Linked DNA regions of Homo sapiens. The main gene of each other region encodes a partner of the protein of the gene in region 2 in a complex. Each region holds a gene or a part of one and is shown on either strand. Other genes may lie near its edges. The genes, in order: RHOA and ARHGEF2.

Region 1 (10,273 bases), on a different chromosome or scaffold from region 2:
GTTACAACATTAAATATCCATCTTAAATTTACTTCCTTAACCTCTCAAAGCCTATATCCCAAACAAAGTTACAAAAAAAAATCCCAGTAGTAGAGCATATGATCTCTAGGTCCATGGAAGAGACACCAGAGAATCACAACTCATCTGCAACATACAGACTAGGATACAATGGCTAGAAGAATACAGTAAAATAAAAATGTATACATAACAAAAGTTAGAATGCTCAACCATATACTTGAAGTCAAAACAAGCAACTTTTTTAAATCATGGGACTGAATCCTTGTGCTTTAGAGCAGCTATAAGCTTCAGAAATTAAAAATCTTGGCCAGGGTAGCTCACGCCCGTAATCCCAGCAGGAAGCTGAGGCGGGTGGATTGCCTGAGGTCAGGAATTTGAGACCAGCCTGGCCGACATGGTAAAATTCTTGTCTCTACTAAAATACAAAATACAAAAATTAGCCAAGGGTGGTGGGCAGGTGGTGGATGGCACCTGTAATCGAGCTAGTGGGTAGGTTGAGGCACGAGAATCGCTTGACTCACATCTTTAATCCCAGCACTTTGGGAGGCTGAGGCAGGAGGACAACTTGAGCCCAGGAGTACAAGATCTGTCTGGGCAACATAGCAAGACACCATCTCTAGTACAAAAAAAGAGAAGAAAAAAATAAAGCAAAAAAATTTTAAAAACAAATCCTTAGTGGCTCATGCTTGTAATCCCAACACCTTGGGAGGCCAAGGTGGGTGGGTCACGGGGTCACGAGGTCAAGAGATCAAGGCCATCCTGGCCAACATGGTGAGATCCCGTCTTTACTAAAAATACAAAAATTAGTCGGGCATGGTCACACACACACACCTGTAGTCCCAGCTACTCTAGAGACTGAGGCACGAGAATCGCTTGAACCTGGGAAACAAAGGTTGAAGTGAACAAAGATCACTCACTGCACTCCAGCCTGGGTGACAGTGAGACCCTGTCTCAAGAGAAGAGAAGAGAAGAACCAATGACTTCAAATAAAATAGGCAGAAGTCACTAAGTCAAGGAAATTAATATTATGAAATCCTTTCCGTTTTTTTTTTTTTTTTTTTTTTTTTGAGTCTTGCACCGTCTCCCAGGCTGGAGTGCAATGGCTCGATCTCTGCTCACAGCAACCTCCGCCTCCCAGGTTAAAGTGATTCTCCTATCTCAGCCTCCTGAATAGCCGGGATTATAGGCGCCTGCTGCCACGCCCAGCTAATGTTTTGTATTTTTAGTAGAGACAGGGTTTCACCATGTGGCCAGGCTGGTCTCAAACTCCTGACCTCAAGTGATCCACCTGCCCAGCACTTCCAAAGTGCTGGGATTACAGGCATCAGCCACTGCTCCCAGCCAGGAATTCCTTTTTATATTTGTCCAAATTATCATATTAGTTTACTATTTAGTCAGAATGGAATTAGATCTACTCCTACTCACAGTGATTCTAGTTTTTTTTTTAATATCAGATCATGTCATTCCCTTTCTAAAGAATATCTAAATGACTTCTAATCTCAGAACAAATCCAAAGAATTTCCCATGTCCTAAAGGCCCTATATGATTTGGCCCCTGCCCACCTCTCTAACCTCTTTTTACCTCCAACTTTTCCTTTCACTCCACTTCAAACTTACTTCATTGGCTGTGTATGTTTTCCTCTTTCCCTTCACTTAAATTTAAGATACTATCATAAATATGCTTAAATATGGCCAGACATAGTGGCTCTCACCTGCAATCTCAACACTTTCAGAGGCCAAGGGGGGCAGATCACAAGGCCAGGAGTTCGAGAACAGCCTGACCAACATGGTGAAACCCCGTCTCTACTAAAAATACAAAAATTAGCTGAGCACAGTGGCGCATGCTGGTACTCCCAACTACTCCAGAGGCCGAGGCACAAGAATCACTTGAACTAGGAGGCGGCGGTTGCAGTGAGCCGAGATGGCGCTACTGCACTCTGGCCCGGACGACAGAGTGAGACTCAGTCTCAAAAGAGAAAAAAAAAAAAATATATATATATACACACACACATACACACACGTATATGTACACATATATATACGTATACACGTATATGTACACATATATATACGTATACACGTATATACGTATACACAAGTATATATACATATACACACACACACATATGCTTAAATATACATACTCATCCTCTTCAAAAAATAAAATCAAGCTAAGTTTGGCATAAACTGCATACTGATTGCAATTTAGCAAGAGTATTTGATGTTTTTCTTTATTATTAGCTATAAAAATGTATTTGGATGAAGCATCAATAAACTGAGACCAACACCCAGAACGAGCAGCTTCAGTGCCTGATTTTCAGTCACATGACTATCGTAATTATGAACATACCAAGGCCTTCACTTAATACTACAGCTCCACAGATTAAAGATGAGGGATTTTATAGTAATTACAAACTTCAAACCGTCTTGGAAATTTTAATCCCACAAATGAGCATGTCCCCAAAGAGCCCCATGTATAGCAAGGCATGTAACATTAAGTTCAAAATTTAGTTATATTAATGTGTAGTTACAAGCAAACAGTTCCATTGGGCAGGTAAACAAAGGAATAAACTAAATGGCAGAGTCAGACAAAATACTTAAGATCCTTTTTTTTTTTTTTTGAGACGGAGTCTCGCTCTGTTGCCCTGGCTGGAGCACAGTGGCGCGATCTCAGCTCACGGCAAGCTCCGCCTCTCGGGTTCACGCCATTCCCCTGCCTCAGCCTCCAGAGCAGCTGGGACTACAGGCGCCCGCCACCACACCCAGCTAATTTTTTTTGTATTTTTAGTAGAGACGGGGTTTCACCGTGTTAGCCAGGATGGTCTCCAGACCTCGTGATCCGCCCGCCTCGGCCTCCCAAAGTGCTGGGATTACAGGCATGAACCACCGCGCCCTGCCAGGATCCTTTTAAAACTACAAATATGGGTGGGCGTGGTGGCTCACCCTTGTAATCCCAGCACTTTGGGAGGCCAAGGCAGGCGGATCACCTGAGGTCAGGAGTTCAAGACCAGCCTGGCCAACACGGTGAAACCCCATCTCTACTAAAAATACAAAAGTTAGCCAGGAATGGTGGTGGGTGCCTGTAGTCCCAGCTACTCCAGGGGCCGAGGCAGGAGAATCACTTGAACCCAGGAGGCAGACGGTGCAGTGAGCTGAGATCGCGCCACTGCACTCCAGCCTGGGCAACAGAGTGAGACTCCATTTCAAAAATAAAAATAAATATAAAACTACAACTATATGGCCAATTTTAAAATCCAGTGACTATGTACTATTTATCATAATCACTAGTAACCACAATGCAATTAAACCCAAGGTGCTGTCTACAGAAGGCCAGCAGCTTCAAATTAGCTCTCTTAGAAGCTGATCAGTCTTTCTTCTCAGAGTTAACATATATCTCTCAGCTCTCTAAGACAATTAAAAAGACGCAAACTAGCACCTTCTCCAGTCACTGCATGGACTCCACCCCATGGACAAGAAACACCTGAAGAGCTACCTGTTTTTACTCTCCTAATAACTTACACCCCCATATGACCAGAATAAACTTTTAAAAAGCAGTTAACTGACAAATGGAAAGAAATCAGGACTACGAAAATACTCCACCACCACCACATGCATGTGCACAGGGAATTGTTTACTTGATACACGCAGTACCCCAAATCAACAGTCAAAAGTGCCCACAGTTAACTAAAAATATCTTAGCCTGACCTAAATATCTTGGTTTTGAAGCAGTAAAGTGTAGGCCTTGCTCTAGAAGTTGGTCCCTTAAAAAAAAATCCAAACAAAGCCATGATTAGGCCAACCAGGGACCCTCGTACATTCATCTATCTCCCTCAATTGAAGGCAGGACCATCCAGTTAACAAGGGGAGAGTGCTGTGTAAGCTAATGAACCGAAATTTTTTGGCAAATGAACAGTTTCTCCCAAACTATTCACCATCAACAAGGTTTAAAAGAAGAAACAATGGAATAAGCTAGAAGTCCTGAATTTTAGCTGACTCTGGAGGCCAACTGCTTGGGAGTAAATGGAGAATACCTTAACAGAGCAGACAGTTCTGGTCTGCTCCTGACTAGATAGGTAACCTTGGGAAATTTACTTAAGTCTCTGGGACTCAGTTTGCTCATCTGCAAATGGGGTTGGACAACCAGTCCTGAAAGATTCCTCTTAGATCTAAAACTCAAGAACTACACAGTATTCCTACTCTCTTCTTCCCTCCAACACAGATTTTTATGAGAACAGAGAGGATAAATCTAGCACTAGACTTTAACTCAAACCAAGGTGCACCTTATATATTTAATGTCCCCAAGAGCCATCAGTGCTCCACAAAAGTAGATGGAACCAATTAAGACAAGTTATCCAGAGATCCTTCAATAAGTCATTCTTTACAATTAAAAACTAGTTTTTCAGTCCAATGTCACTTGTGCCAAATGCTCAAAACAGTATCTCCGCCAATCTAGCCACATCTAAGGTGACAATCATCCGCATGGTACACATTACACATCTGGGTGATACTAAGTGGTTGAAAAATTCTCTCCACATACAACATTTTAAATTATGGAAGTTTTTTGGTTTTTCAATTTTTCTCCTTCAGAAAGGCAGAGTGAAATATCTACTTACACACCTGCAAGAAACGTTTAAGACTTTCTTCAAGACAGAACCAAACAAGTCAACAACAGAGGTAAAAATTTAAAATCAGAACTATTAAAAAACACAAGTGGAACCAACTTTGAGGTAAAAAGGATTCCAATTTTCCACCGTAAACTACTAAACAAGGTTTGTGAACAAATCAACTTGGATGCGAATAGCGCTATTCAATGAAGACGACCCGTAACTGTAGATCCAATCAGTAACTAAGGTACAGATATTTAGATCATTCCTAATCAATACAGCGACTTCGACTAAGCAACATTGCATCTATTTTCATGCAACATCGCTTAAATCATTTACAGTTTTGTGTGTTGTTTTTTTTTTCCAAATGGAAAATACCCCTTTTCCACTCAAAACAGACCCCAAAGCTTTCAGACGAGTTCGGGCGCGTTCCAGGTGGTATGGCCGTAGATCATACCCCTAAGCGTTCAATACAATCTTTTACTTACTTACACAGTCTCCAACAAGTCTGCATTAAAAGAAAACCTACCCAAAGTGTAACTGGACTTTAATCAATATGAAACAGTGATTGTCGTTTCTCGTTAAACGTAAAAAGCAAAATGGAGTTGTAAAGAGTTTCTTTCCCATTTCAACTCCGACAGCCACGCGCGCTTTCAGCGGCCGGCTACACTGCGCGGTCGCGGGGCCCGGCCCAAAGCCCCCGCCCTGCCCGGCGCCGCTGGGAGAGGAAGCTCCGGGGACCGAGGGCGGGCAGGCGGGCAGCCTGGGCTCCACCAGGCCCGGCCGGGCGGGGGAAGGGGCACAGGAGACTACCGGGCGCGCTTCCGGGGACTGCGCGGGCGGGGTCGCCGCTTGGGGCGCGGGGCCCGGGCTGGGAGTCAGGTCAAGGGTCAGGGGCCAGGGGCGGCTCGGCCACGAGCAGCCGGTGGGGCGCGGCCGCGGCGGTGCGGCGGCCTGCCGGCCGGAAGAGTACCGGGCTGGCGGGCCTGGGGCCCCGCGGCGCCTGGAGGGAACCCTTCCGCTCACCTCAGGCAACGAATCCGAGTCCAGCCTCTTCGCGCCGGGGACGCCGGTCCGCGAGTCGCAAACTCGGAGACGAAGGCGGGTAGCTGAAGACCAGACCGTGGACTAACGAGAGAACCGACGGAGGACCGCGGGCGGCGGGAGGGTAGCGCGAGAGAGCGAGGGCGGGCGGCGGCGGGAGGGCGGGGAACGACGTGCGCGCCTCCGAGTGCCCAGCGGGCTCGAGCCGGCACAGGTCGCGGCCCCGCGCACGCGCGCGCACTCACAGCTCATCCACTATTGCTCAGGAGCCCGTCCACGCCCTAAAAGCAAAACCCTTAACCAATCATTGCAGCCGCGTGGGGCATCACGGGAACTCCGGGGCTATAAAAGACCTGGTTGCTATTTTGTACTCCCGGAGTCACTCATCCCTTAAGCAAGCAGGGTGGGGTTAGGTGCGCGTGCGCGGTTTTAATACTCCTCCCCGAACTGCCAACTCTTCACGCACGCGAAGTAGGCCCCACCCTGGCTGGGTTTACGCGTGCGCACTAACGGGCCTGGTCCCGGAAGACCACACGCGTGCGTGGTGGGGACTACGGTGACAGTACCCCGGGTGGGGCGAGGGCCAGTCATGGCGGAGTCCTGGTCTGGGCAGGCCTTGCAGGCTCTGCCGGCCACGGTGCTGGGCGCGCTGGGCAGCGAGTTCTTGCGGGAGTGGGAGGCGCAGGACATGCGCGTGACCCTCTTCAAGCTGCTGCTGCTGTGGTTGGTGTTAAGTCTCCTGGGCATCCAGCTGGCGTGGGGGTTCTACGGGAATACAGTGACCGGGTTGTATCACCGTCCAGGTGAGGCTTCCTACGAACCTCCGTGGGCTGGCCGCCCCCGCCCCCACCCTCTCCCGACTGTACCATTGGGTTCCCCACTATCCTGCAAGAGGCTCATCAGAACTTAACATTGGTTCACGGCCTTACTACCCTGAACGCATCTGACCTCGGAAGCTAAGCCAGGTACTTGGATGGGAGAACTTAACGTTGTGCCCTGACTCATGCCACCATACCATTTTACGCCAGAATCCCCACCAGTCCACCCATCACATTGTATCTGTTCCTCAGAACTCTCACCTGGCAATACCATTAGTCCCTTAGGACCCTCACCAGACTTCACCAAACAATACCAGTGGTCTCTAACCTGACCTGGGCTGATGCCTGCTCAGATTCCCACCCCAGCCTTCTGCAGCTCTGGATGTGTTTCTGCCTCCAGGTCTGGGTGGTCAGAATGGATCCACGCCTGATGGCTCCACGCATTTCCCTTCGTGGTGAGTAAATCTGTCCATACCGCAACCCCATGCTTGGCATTCCAAGGACACTCCTGTGCTGGTGACAGAGAGGGGAGTTCTCAGGCTTTAAGCCCACCAGCTTAATGGCCTTTGCAGCAAGCTTCAAGTCTGCACGTAGAGCTCAGGCTTCAAGTTAGGGTGACACCAAGGTCTGGACAGTCCATCATCATGCTGTTCAGCAGCCTGTAGGATAGGTGGTGGTATTGTCATAATTTCAGAGAGATGAAATGACAGGTTTGTTGGATTCCACTCTGCACAATCCCCTCAGTTGGGAAGGCAGTAATCTCTGTCCTGAGCACATTGACCTCATCAGGGTCAGCCTCCTCTTCTGCAAAACATGCGCTCACTAATCAGGGCATTCATTCAGATAATCTCTGGGCCCCTATCACGTGATAGGGGCCACACGAGGCCCAGAGAACAAAGACAACCCGGGCCCTGCTCATGGGGAGCCAGGGATTTATTAGGGGAGGGCGGCAGTGCATGGGGCAAGGGTGGTCAGGGAAGGCTTCTCCCAAGAAAGACACCTAAGCCGAGATCAAATGCCACAGGGTGACAAAGTGTACCAAGCAAAGGGAATGGATTGAGCAAGGCTAAGAGGGAAGAATACGGGTGACATATTAGAATAGGTAAGACTGTGATGCTGGAGCTTGAACGTGAGAGCTTGTTGGACCCTGGGAGCCATTGAAAGACTAACTCAGCAAGGCTGTGGTCTGATCTAATTTGCCTTTATAAATGCCTACTTCATGGCAAGTAGATAAAGGGGTCCAAGAGTTAGGGCTAGAGGTTAGAAAGGCTGCCACTGCCCAGGTTTCTGTCTTAGAGAAGAGGCCAGGCCCCATGGCTCATGCCTGTAATCCCAGCACTTTGGGAGGCTGAGATGGGCGGATCACTTGAGGTCAGGAGTTTGAGACTAGCCTGGCCAACATAGGGAAACCCCGTCTTTACTAAAAATAGAAAAAATTAGCTGGGCATGGTGGCATACGCCTGTAATCCCAGCTACTCGGGAGGCTGAGGCATGAGAATCACTTGAACCCAGGAGGCAGAGGTTGCAGTGAGCCCAGATCACGCCACTGCACTCCAGACTGGGCATCAGAGTGAGACTCTGTCTCAAAAAAAATAACAGGCCGGGCATGGTGGCTCACGCCTGTTCCTAGCACTTTGGGAGACTGAGGAGGGTAGATCACCTGAGGCCAGGAGTTTGAGACCAGCCTGGCCAACATGGCGAAACCCCGTCTTCACTAAAAATACAAAAACTAGCTGGGTGTGGTGGCGGGCGCCTGTAATCCCAGCTACTTGGGAGGCTGAGGCAGGAAAATTGCTTGAACCCGGGAGGTGGAGGCTGCAGTGAGCTGAGATCTTGCCATTGCACCCCAACCTGGGCAACAAGAGTGAAACTCCGTCTCAAAAAAAGAAAAGTAATAACAATAGTAATAAATAAAAAGAATAAAAAAACTAGAGAAGGATGGCAATGCCGTACTAACATGGAGAACCAGGAAGAAGAATGAGTCTGCAGGGAGAAGGTGCTGGGCCCAGGGTGGGCTGTGGGAGACCAGCAGAGAGGTCTAGATTGTTATGTGACCTTACTGAGCCTAGCTCAGCCCCCAAGAAGGAGCTTGGGAGAGCCAATTTCAGCAACTGTTCTGCCCATGGAATAACCACTCTCTCTTCTCTCTCTCCATCACTTTCAGGGAAATGGCAGCAAACGAACCTCTCAAAACCCACAGAGAATAAGGGAAGGCAGCAGAGGGTCTCCAAGGGCATCACTGGGTCTGCTGGCTTCTACACTGGGTTCTGCTACTCCCCAGACCTCAGGGACAACTGCCGGGGGTTCAGGGTTGGTAGCAGGGAGTACCCAGTGCCTACAGGGCTGGGCCTCTTCTGCCTCTTAAGCCTGCTCCCTCACCCAGGCACTGGGCAAGTGAAGAGTTTGCCTGTACTCTTATCTGGGTGCCTTAAGGAGAGAGATTGTGTTCTTCCTCTCTCAGGGGTGATAACTCAGGAAGCCTCTGGGTTGGGAAGACCATCAGTTCTTTTGTCTTAGGTTTCTTTTCCTGTCCCTCTTCCATCCCCAAGATGTGACCCCATAAAAATTTTTCCTGAGTTGGCCAGGCATGGTGGCTCACGCCTGTAATCCCAACACTTTGGGAGGCTGAGGCAGGCAGATCACGAGGTCAGGAGTTCGAGACCAGCCTGACCAACATGGTGAAAACCCCATCTCTACTAAAAATACAAAAATTAGCCGGGTGTGGTGGCACACACCAGTAATCCCAGCTACTCAGGAGGCTGAAGCAGGAGATTTGCTTGAACCTGGGAGGCAGAGGTTGCAGTGAGCCAAGATTGCGCCGTTGTACTCCAGCCTGGGCAACAGAGCAAGACCCATCTCAAAAAAAAAATTTTTTTCCTGAGAGGAAGCCTGAGGTTGACCAGCTCTGGGGTTTGTAAGGCAGGTCTGTTTTCTCCTAGGCCCTGAGTTTTCTGAATCTCTGGTTTTGCTTTGTTGGCAAGGAGCCAGGGAATCCTGACCTGAGCCAGACCTTAAGCTCTATGGTTATTTAGCTGGCCATTCAGGTATAAGGCAGGGTGGTGTACCTGCTGGCACTATCCAGATGGAGGCACCAAACACCCACATACCTGGCCCAACCAGACTTCTCCCGTGAGCCAGGCAAAGGAAATTGTCATCTGCCAACTGTCCTACTCATATTCCTCTCAGTCCTTCTTGGGGGTAAGCTGATTACCTGAAGGACAGCTGAACCCCTGGGGTAGCCTCCTATCCACCACTGCTTAAGTGCCTATGGGAATGTGGGTCTGCACCTTGTCCCCTCATAGGATGGTACCAAGCATTTAGTGCACAGTGGCCCCATCATAGCCTGCAGCCTCATCATTTCCCATCTGGACCTGGTACAAATGCACGTCACAGGCTCAGCTCCTCCCCACTAGCATTTTCTCTACCTTCAAGAACCAGGCAGCCCTGCCATGTCACAATAGGCCAGGGGAGTTTCCAAAGATGTGGGTGGCAAATGCCCCTATAGAAACACCAGTACCTGAAAGCACTGTAGCCCTGGACCTGCCTCCTTCCCTCGGGGCCATACTTCTGTTTCCATCTGCTGGGCCACCAGCCACTTTAGTGACCCCTGCCTACTTCCTTCCTGTTGGATATCATACTTCCATCTGGCTGCCTTTGCTTAAGCCATCTTTGTGGTAGAGGGGCCCTGGAATTGCAGCTGTACTGAGGATGATGTTATTCACAGCCCCTGGCCCACCCACTAATACTACTGCACAGAGTCAGGATCTCACATTTCACCCCAGGCTCAACT
Region 2 (7,876 bases):
AGCCACCAGGAGGACCCCCCATTCTTCCACTCTCCTCCAACACCGTCAGCCCTCTCAGCTCCCTCCTGGGCTCCCCCAGCTCTCCTCTCCACTGCACTCCTAGTCCTGCACACAAAGCCAGCCACCTCTCCATTCCTCAGAACAAAGAAATAGTCGCTCTGCACACTCCCCACTCCACCTGCCCACCACAGAGATTCCAAGGGGACCCCCAGCCTCCACAGCCATCCCTGGACCTCTGGTCCCTGCTTGGCAGAAAAGGACCCTTTGTTCTAAGGGATATGATGGTTGGGGTTTGGGAAAGGAGAAAGGGAAGAACAGGGGACTAAAGAGAGAAAGGGGACCTGTGAGGTTTGGGGCTTGTGGAGGTAGGAAGTAGAGCAGAGAGAACAGAGGAGGTGGAGGACTGAAGACAGCCTGGGAGAACAGAAATGGAGTGAAAAGAAAAAGGAAGCATGGAGGGGGCTACACAGAGAGATCCTGTGAGGATGGGACAGAGAAAGGGGCAGGTTAAACTTACATTCCTCCTCCTAGGAGGAGCTCCCAGGGAATGAGGCAAGGAATGGGGAGGGGCTGAGGTGTCAGGGCTTAGCTGTGACCCATCCCCCCAAGGAGGTAGCAGGGGACACCATCTTCTTCAAATAATGTCTTTTCCAGCGGGTGCCCCTCTACTTCCCACCACAGTATAAAAAGAAAGGAGACAGCTGGTGTGCTGGGGGGAGGGGGAGAGGGGATCCAGGGTTTGTTGGCTAAGAACCAACTCCCCCTTCTGTAACCACAGTTTTCCGGAGGTGGCCCTCCCCTTCCGACCGGCCCAAACTGACAACCACCCTTCTCCGGTGGCCTCTTTGCCCTCTCAGATCCACCCACTCAGCCCCCGACTCCCTGCTGCCAGCCAGATTCCCAAATTACCTGCCCCACACAGCCAGCCCCCATAGTAGAAAGAAGAGCCAGTCCCCCCACCACCAAAAACAAAAACAAAAACAGAGCATGAACACCCAGATGTCTGACGTCCCAGCTCCCCACAATAATGGAAAAGGGATCCCAGTAGCTACCTGCCCCCACAGAACCGCTCTCTATACCCCCTAGCCAGGTCTTCCCCCAACCAGCTCCCCCATGGCTTTCCTTTTTAGGGTGGAACCAAATTTCTGCGGTTTCAAAAAACCTCCCCCGCCCCCCTTGGCTCTACTCCAGGGTCTCAGCTCAAACGGTTGAAAAAATAAACAGACTTTTGGAGCTGGGGCCTGGGCTGGCGCAGGCTGTGAAGAGCCTGTCTGCCACCCCACTGTTCCACCACACTTCAGCCACCTCACCCCGGCCCTCTGTTTGTCTTAGGCCCTACTCGAATCCCCAGTTGCTTTCCAGATAGCAAAATCTAATCCCAACCCCCTAAGGAAAGTCCTTTTAAAGCTGCTTTCCCTGGCCCTCCACCCCCAACCCAGGATGGAACCTCTGTCTCTCCCAGTTTAGCATCAAGACAGGTAGCCTGGCTAGGAACTACCAGGGAGGTGGAGGGGAGGGCTTTCCATCACCCTTAAGGACTCCTAAGGGGTACTGCTCCCTTGGCTGAAGTTGGTGATCAGCATAGGCTGGCACCAGGGTAGTAGGGCACTCAGGTTGGAGAGAAGCCAGAGATTAAACCAACTCTGGGCTGGGACCTGTCCTTTCTGATAATGGGTACAGTGCGGGGGCCCCAAAGGAGCTGGGAGGTGCTGTCTGCAGGCACCACCTTCCTTTCAGCTCTGACTTATTCACCTGCAAGTCAGCTTCATCATTTCCTGGGGTCTGGGTGTGGAAAGGTCAGGGCACTTGGGAATGGGGCTGGGTACAAAGGCAGGGATAAAGGGTACTTGGAGAGGAGTGGCCAAGAGGTCATGATGGGGGAGGCGTGTGGATAATTATACACCCAGACTCATGAAATGCTAGGTGAAGGGACCCCAAGACGAGCAGATAAGAGAATGAGAGCGCTGGGGGAGGAGGAGGAAGGGCAGGGAACACAATGCATAGTGCCAGGTGTGTCAGCCTAAGGGTTTCAGGTTGGGAGAAGGAAGAGCTAGGAGGCTGGCGGGGCAGATAGGGATGGAGGCCCTATGTTCCAGGCAGAAGGGCTCAGGATGGAGGAAAGGAGCCCAGCTACACAAAGACCTCTGCTCCCTTCACCTAGAGGTGATGGTTTGGGGGAAGTAAGCCGTCCCTCGGCCGTCCCGACCCCAGCCACCCGCCCACCCAGAGGGGAGAACTGAATCACAGCTGGAAAGTCCATTTGCGAGGAGAGGAGGAGCTGACTTTTGTCTTGGAGGGGTGGTGGTGGTGGTGGGAGGAAGCCGGGAAACCACCCCCTCCCGTCCCCTCCGCCGGATGGCGGGGACAAAGGGGGAACGACCAAGCCAGCGATTGGGGAGTGATGGGGGGTCGCCACGCCAAGCCCAAGCCGGTGGGGCCCGGGGTGAGAGGAGGTGCCGGAGCTTCCACCGCCCCCACCCGCGAGACACACACCTCCCTCTTCCCGCTCCGTCCCTTACCGGAGCAACTTTCTTTCAAGCGGCCTAAAGCACTCGGTCCCGCCGGCTTGGAGGCGACCAAGCCCAGGTCCGCTCCGCTCCCTCCCGGGATCCCAGCACCGTCGCGTCTGCCGCTCCCCCCACCCCTACCCACTCGCTCGCAGTCCCCACCCACCCCGTCCCGCCGCTCGCCGATCCACCGCTCCGCCCGATTTTGGCGCCCAGAAAGCAGGCGGGGAGACAGGAGATGCACCGCGGGTGCCGGGGTTCGGGGAGCACCCGAGGACCGCGGCGAAAGGAGAGGGGTTTCCGAGCCCACCTTGCTCGCCAGCTCTCTGCTCCGGTCGATCCGCGCCCGCGTGAGGGATTCGATCCGAGACATAATCGGACGGGGGGACCAGGGAGGACGCGGCGCGGACCCCGGCGTCCTGTATTGTTGGGGGAAGGCGGGGGGAGGGGTTCGGCCCGCACGCGTTGGTCTCGGGGACAGGAAGTCTGACTCCCCTCGCCCGGCACCCAGCACCAGTTCCTCAAACCCGAGTCTCCTCCCCCGCCCAAGCTCAGGAAGGGGGTAGGCGGAGCGGAGGGAGGGCGGGGTGCCCGCGCGCAGGACGGGACGCCAGGGTTTGTGTGGGGGCAGCTCGGAGAGGTACGAGGGTCCTAGGACAGGTTTGAGAGGCCCCTCTGCCTATTTCCCCTCCAGCGCCTGGGGGCGCCCTCTAGCCCCAGAGACCCGCCTCTTAGCTCTTCTTTTCCTAAAACCCAGCCCCGCAGCCCTCGCCGGACCCAGGTTGGCCCTTTCCCCTCTGCCCTCCCCTTCTTCCCTTCTCCCCTCGCCCTCCCTTTTTCCCTCCCCTACTGCGTTACCTCAGTCTTTAAAGACCCGCAGGCAGGAGAATTCCATCCGCCCCCAGCTCTTAGAAAACCCAGGACCAGTTCCTTCCTGGCCTTCGGGGTCCCATCAAAGCAGGCCTGAGCAGACTGACCCCTTTTACGATTGGGGGCAGGGGTGGCCAGAGGGAGAGGAAATCAAAGGAGAACTAAACGCTGGATCTTCAGTACACGGGAAGGGTAGGATTCACTCCCAGAGGTCGAAGAACAGAGAGGAGAGAATTCTCCCACATGCCCCACCCTTCTGGGGCCTTCCTGACCCCACTCTGCCCTCCTCCTAGCTCCGCCTCTGCCAGCTACTTTGGGGGACTAGGTTGGGATTCTCCACTTTTACCGAAGGCCTTCCATGTGTCTAACTGCAGTTCTCTCTGTTGCAAGTTAAGCCGGAACTGAAAGACCAGAAACCAGCCTGCCCTAGTCAAAGAAAGTTAGGGCCCAACCAGCCTCTCCCCAAGAAGCAGGGTAAGGTGGGGCATTCATCTCTCTGGACCCTTTTCCCCAGCCTGAGCCAGCCTTTGGGTGAGTTTCCTGCTATTGGGAAAATTCCTCCTCCAGTCTAACTATGATCACTTACAGTGAAGTTCATTTCTGCCTCTCAGGGTCTCCCATTTCTCTGGAGAAACCAGAAGCACAGAGAGGCCTGGGACAGAGCCTTCGGTTAGCAGGGTCCTGCCTGATTCTGGCCCCAAAGGGCGTGGGAGAAGAAGGGAGGGAGGGGAGACCCAACCCAGATCCAGCAGTTCTCTGCCCTGGCTCAGCAGTGGGGCCAGGCTGCAGGTTTCAAGCCCAACTCAGCACTCTTGTAGGTGCCAATTTTAGCCTCTGCCACTATTTTTGGGCTCCACTACCTCACCACTGGCTGAGCTGGTTGGGCTCCTCACCCCCAGCACTACCCCCACACTGCCCCTCCGGCTTCCCCTCCTTCCTAGCAACTCCTTCACCTCCTTCTTCACCCATTCCCCTGTTTAGAATCCTTAAATAGCAAAGACCAGGAAAAAGGAAGAGGAAATAAACCGTGCCCAGTTCAGGCTGGATGGACATTAGAAAGCAGGAAGGACTTCCCCAGGGCCACAGCTTGTTCTTCCTGGCTTGCACCTGCCAAGTATACCTACGGGGAGGGTGTAGGAACTCCCCCAAACCAAGAGGCCTGAGGCTCCTGGCCCCAGAACTCCAGACTCACCTCCCCTGAGGTGGGCAGCCAAGACTCAGGAATGTACTAAATTTAAAAACAGACAGCCAGAGGCTAGAATCTTGGCCTCAAGGTTCCACCCACTGGAGGCCCAGAGACAAGATCTGGGGTGGGACCTCAGCTTCTCTCCCAGGCCTGGGGCAGGAGGGTGCTGCAAGCTATGGATAGAATCTTAAAGGGCCACACTCCAGCCTGGGTACCCAGGAAACATAGAATTTGAACCCTGGGGTTTTTCAAGCGACCTCATGGTCCCTCAACTCAACTAAGAAGGTCTCTATGAAAGAAGAGGACCCGACCCTCCAACTCTTTTCTGTCTCCCACCCCAACCTTCAGTCTACTTTCCATCCCACCTGCTGTTACCCTACCCCTCACCCTATGCCCTCTTCTTCCCCTTAGGAGATGAATAACAAGGAAAGGGACTAGGGACAGGGAAAAGAAAAGTGTTCTGCCTTTAAAAACACCTGTGTTTAGTGAGCTTGGCCTGCAGCTTGACTCAGTTTCCGTTTTCTATATCCTCTTGAACAATGAACACTTTTCCCTTCTCCTTGGTGTCACCTGCCCCCCTTTTCCAAGACCCTTCTTCATTCCAGCGCCCCCTCTACTCCTATCCAGTGATATCTTCCAGATTTTCAGAAATAATTTTTTAGATACACAGAAACAAACATTTCTACCAGGATCTAAAAATAGCCATCACCTTCTTTAGCCCATTTAACTTGACGAAATGTGTCCCTCCCATTTCAGGGGTAGGGAGGAGGTCCCAGGGAAGAACCTGGTTGCCAAAGTCTCGGCCAGTTGGAGAAGAGATGGGTCTCCCGAGGATACCCAAGCCCAAGCTCTACACTGTCCCAAGGTGGTTTGTTTTTCTTCTTTCTTCTATTGGTCTGGACCTTGTATATTCTGGGAGGAGGTGATTAAGGCCAAATTGCCTTAAGTGGCCATCCAGCCAGAAGCTGGAAGAAGGGAAGGATGAGAGGGAATGAACTGTTGTGTTACGGCTATTGAGAGAAACAGTGGCAATACACAGCCAAAGCCCTGAGTTTCTAATACGGCGCCACCTCTTATGAGCTGTGAGATCTTGGGCAAAGTAACTAACCTTTAAGTATTTGTCTGTAGAATTGAGATTGAAATACTTATCTTTGCCAGAATTGTTATAAGAATTAAATGAGTTGAAAGTGTTTCATCAAGTGTGCAATGCTACTCAAGTAGGAGGGACTAAGCTACTTCCTTCTCTCACTGCTTGACTGAGCTTCTCTCCAGCCCCACCCCCTGATGTTTACTGCTTATGGAGAAAGAGATTAAGTGAAGCAGGCCCACACATTCATGAAGGTGGAAGGAAGATGTAGCAGGAGATGGTGGAGAGGGAAACAGAGGAAGACAGGATGACAGACGTGGGGAGGAAAGGCTGAGCGAGGCAATGTCCTGACTCACTCTGGCGCTTCCCTCTTTCCCATCTGGGCTCCAGAGTCTCTGCCCTCATTCCCCTTCACCAGGTTGCTCAACCCTCCATCAGACTGTTAGGTCAAGGGTGGACAAACAGACCAACCGGGATCTGGATGGCCCCTGGGCAGTACTGACTTCCCCTACCATTCCCATGGCAAGAAAAGGGAGTGATTCCACTAGCAGACTCCCCTACCCTGCAGTGAGACAGCCTGTAGGAAGGTGAGACTCAGACCCCAAGGTTTCTGCTTTTGCTTTGTTCCTTCGAGATCTCCATTCCCCCATGGGAGAGAAACCTCTCTGTCCCACCTGCCCTCCCCTCCCATCAGCTTTCAGATTCTCCAGCTGCTCCTCTTCTGAGACTCACCCAGTCTCATGCCTCCATTAGCCTCAACTCCCGACCCATGGCCTGTGGTGAGAGGTGCTAACAACATGACCTGCTTTCATCTTGACCTTCCCAGCCCACCCAGAGAAAAGGGAATCTTGGCTAAAAAAAGGCTGGAAGAGGGGAGAACCCTGGCACTGCGGGTGGGGCTGGGAGGAGCCCAGGCAACCTTACTGGTGAGAATCTCATGGCTCTTCAAGGTGAATATGATGATGATTTCCCTGGGGTTTCTTTCAATACTCAGAAGCCGCCCCGAGTTGGAAAGCACATGCATACTTGGGGAGGCCAGGGGAGGAAAAGGGGGGCGGCTCACTCTGACAGTAAATGAAGAAAGTGGAAACAAATTCAAGGAGCAGGCAGAGCTCCCGGTTTCACCAGAGCCCAACGGTTGGTAATAAGGATGAGAACAATGTGCCTTCACTTCCTGGGATCAGAACAGCACATGGCCGCACATGTACGGGTATGCATGTGCTTCCATAATCATATACTTTCCCAGCTTCTACTCTGCCTGTGGTCTAATTTCAACTCCTTCAGCTGCTGTACCCACCCATAAAATTATGAGTGTAAAAGCACTTTGCAAACCCTGATACTCTATGAAGAAGTAAAAAGTAGTGCTGTAATTATTATCATTATTATGTCCAATGGTTGAGGTTTCCGCTGCCCACCTGTCAGCTATGTGAGGCCTAAAGAGAGGGAGGGCTAGGCCATTCCTCAGCTTCTGAGGTTCCTGGCCCTTTTCCCCTTCCATCTGTCCACAGCTGACTGCTAAGCTGGATGCGTAGGGGAAAGCAGAGAAAAGGTGATTTACTGGGACACAGAGACACAGGCTGGAAGAGATAGCATGTGTTTCCTTAAAATTTGAAGCATTTGGCTGGGCACAGTGGCTCACACCTGTAATCCCTGCACTTTGGGAGGTAAAGGCAAGAGGATTTCCTGGGCCCAAGAGTTAGAGGCTGCAGTGAGCTATGATTGTGCCATTGTACTCCAGCCTGGGAGACAGAAACCCCCTCTCTTAAAAAAATAAAAAAATAAAAAATGGAACCATTGCTCTGAGTTTCTAATAGGGGGAGTGGTGGGAGGTGGCGATGGTGGGATGGGAGAAAGGGAACTGGAGAGGGCAGTGGGTCCCAAGCCTCCTGCTTCCCCAGCTGACTCCTACCTTGGCCTTTCCGGTCATGCCCGAGAGGAAGCTGAAGGTCTGTCGCAGGGAGGAGCCTACCCGGGTACCTGAATGTCCTTCCAGCTGGCTGCAGCTGCATAGAGAAAAAGAAGACATGAGGAGATGGAGGTAATGCTGGAAATGAAGAAAAAGATAACTTCCTGAGAGATGGTGGATGAAGGTGCCATGACCAGCAGAGCCAGAATGGGAAGGAAGAAAGAGGAAGGATTGGGAGAGAAAGATAAGCCCCCATCCTGACCTCCTAGGACTTCCTGGATGTGGGCATTTCAGTTTCCCAGGCCCCTCTATTTAGGAAG

The links.
Region 1: the proteins of ARHGEF2 (region 2) and RHOA are in contact, whole or in part, in a crystal structure (PDB 7G9I), measured with the Homo sapiens proteins. Residues at the interface, in NP_001155855.1 of Homo sapiens: Asp215, Ser216, Ser218, Leu219, Asp238, Val239, Glu242, Thr246, His249, Cys342, His345, Ser346, Leu349, Lys353, Lys376, Arg377, Gln381, Glu382, Leu385, Leu386, Thr388, Gln389, Ile391, Thr392, Lys393, Leu396, Leu397, Arg400, Lys423, Leu426; in NP_001300870.1 of Homo sapiens: Arg5, Lys7, Lys27, Gln29, Val33, Tyr34, Val35, Pro36, Thr37, Val38, Phe39, Glu40, Asn41, Tyr42, Val43, Asp45, Glu54, Trp58, Asp59, Ala61, Gly62, Gln63, Tyr66, Asp67, Arg68, Leu69, Leu72, Ser73, Pro75, Asp76.

Annotation. Positions count from the first base shown.
Region 1 is NC_000003.12:49,406,173-49,416,445, forward strand, and holds the start of RHOA (transforming protein RhoA isoform 1 precursor), read right to left. Parts: upstream 5,805-10,273; 5' UTR 5,648-5,804; intron 635-5,647; exon of another isoform or gene 540-634; intron 1-539. Other genes in the region: TCTA (T-cell leukemia translocation-altered gene protein), read left to right, coding at 6,255-6,468, 6,884-6,938, 8,648-8,690. UniProt on the Homo sapiens protein: Small GTPase which cycles between an active GTP-bound and an inactive GDP-bound state.
Region 2 is NC_000001.11:155,975,548-155,983,423, forward strand, and holds the start of ARHGEF2 (rho guanine nucleotide exchange factor 2), read right to left. Parts: upstream 3,001-7,876; 5' UTR 2,881-3,000; coding exon 2,818-2,880; intron 2,629-2,817; exon of another isoform or gene 2,520-2,628; intron 1-2,519. UniProt on the Homo sapiens protein: Activates Rho-GTPases by promoting the exchange of GDP for GTP.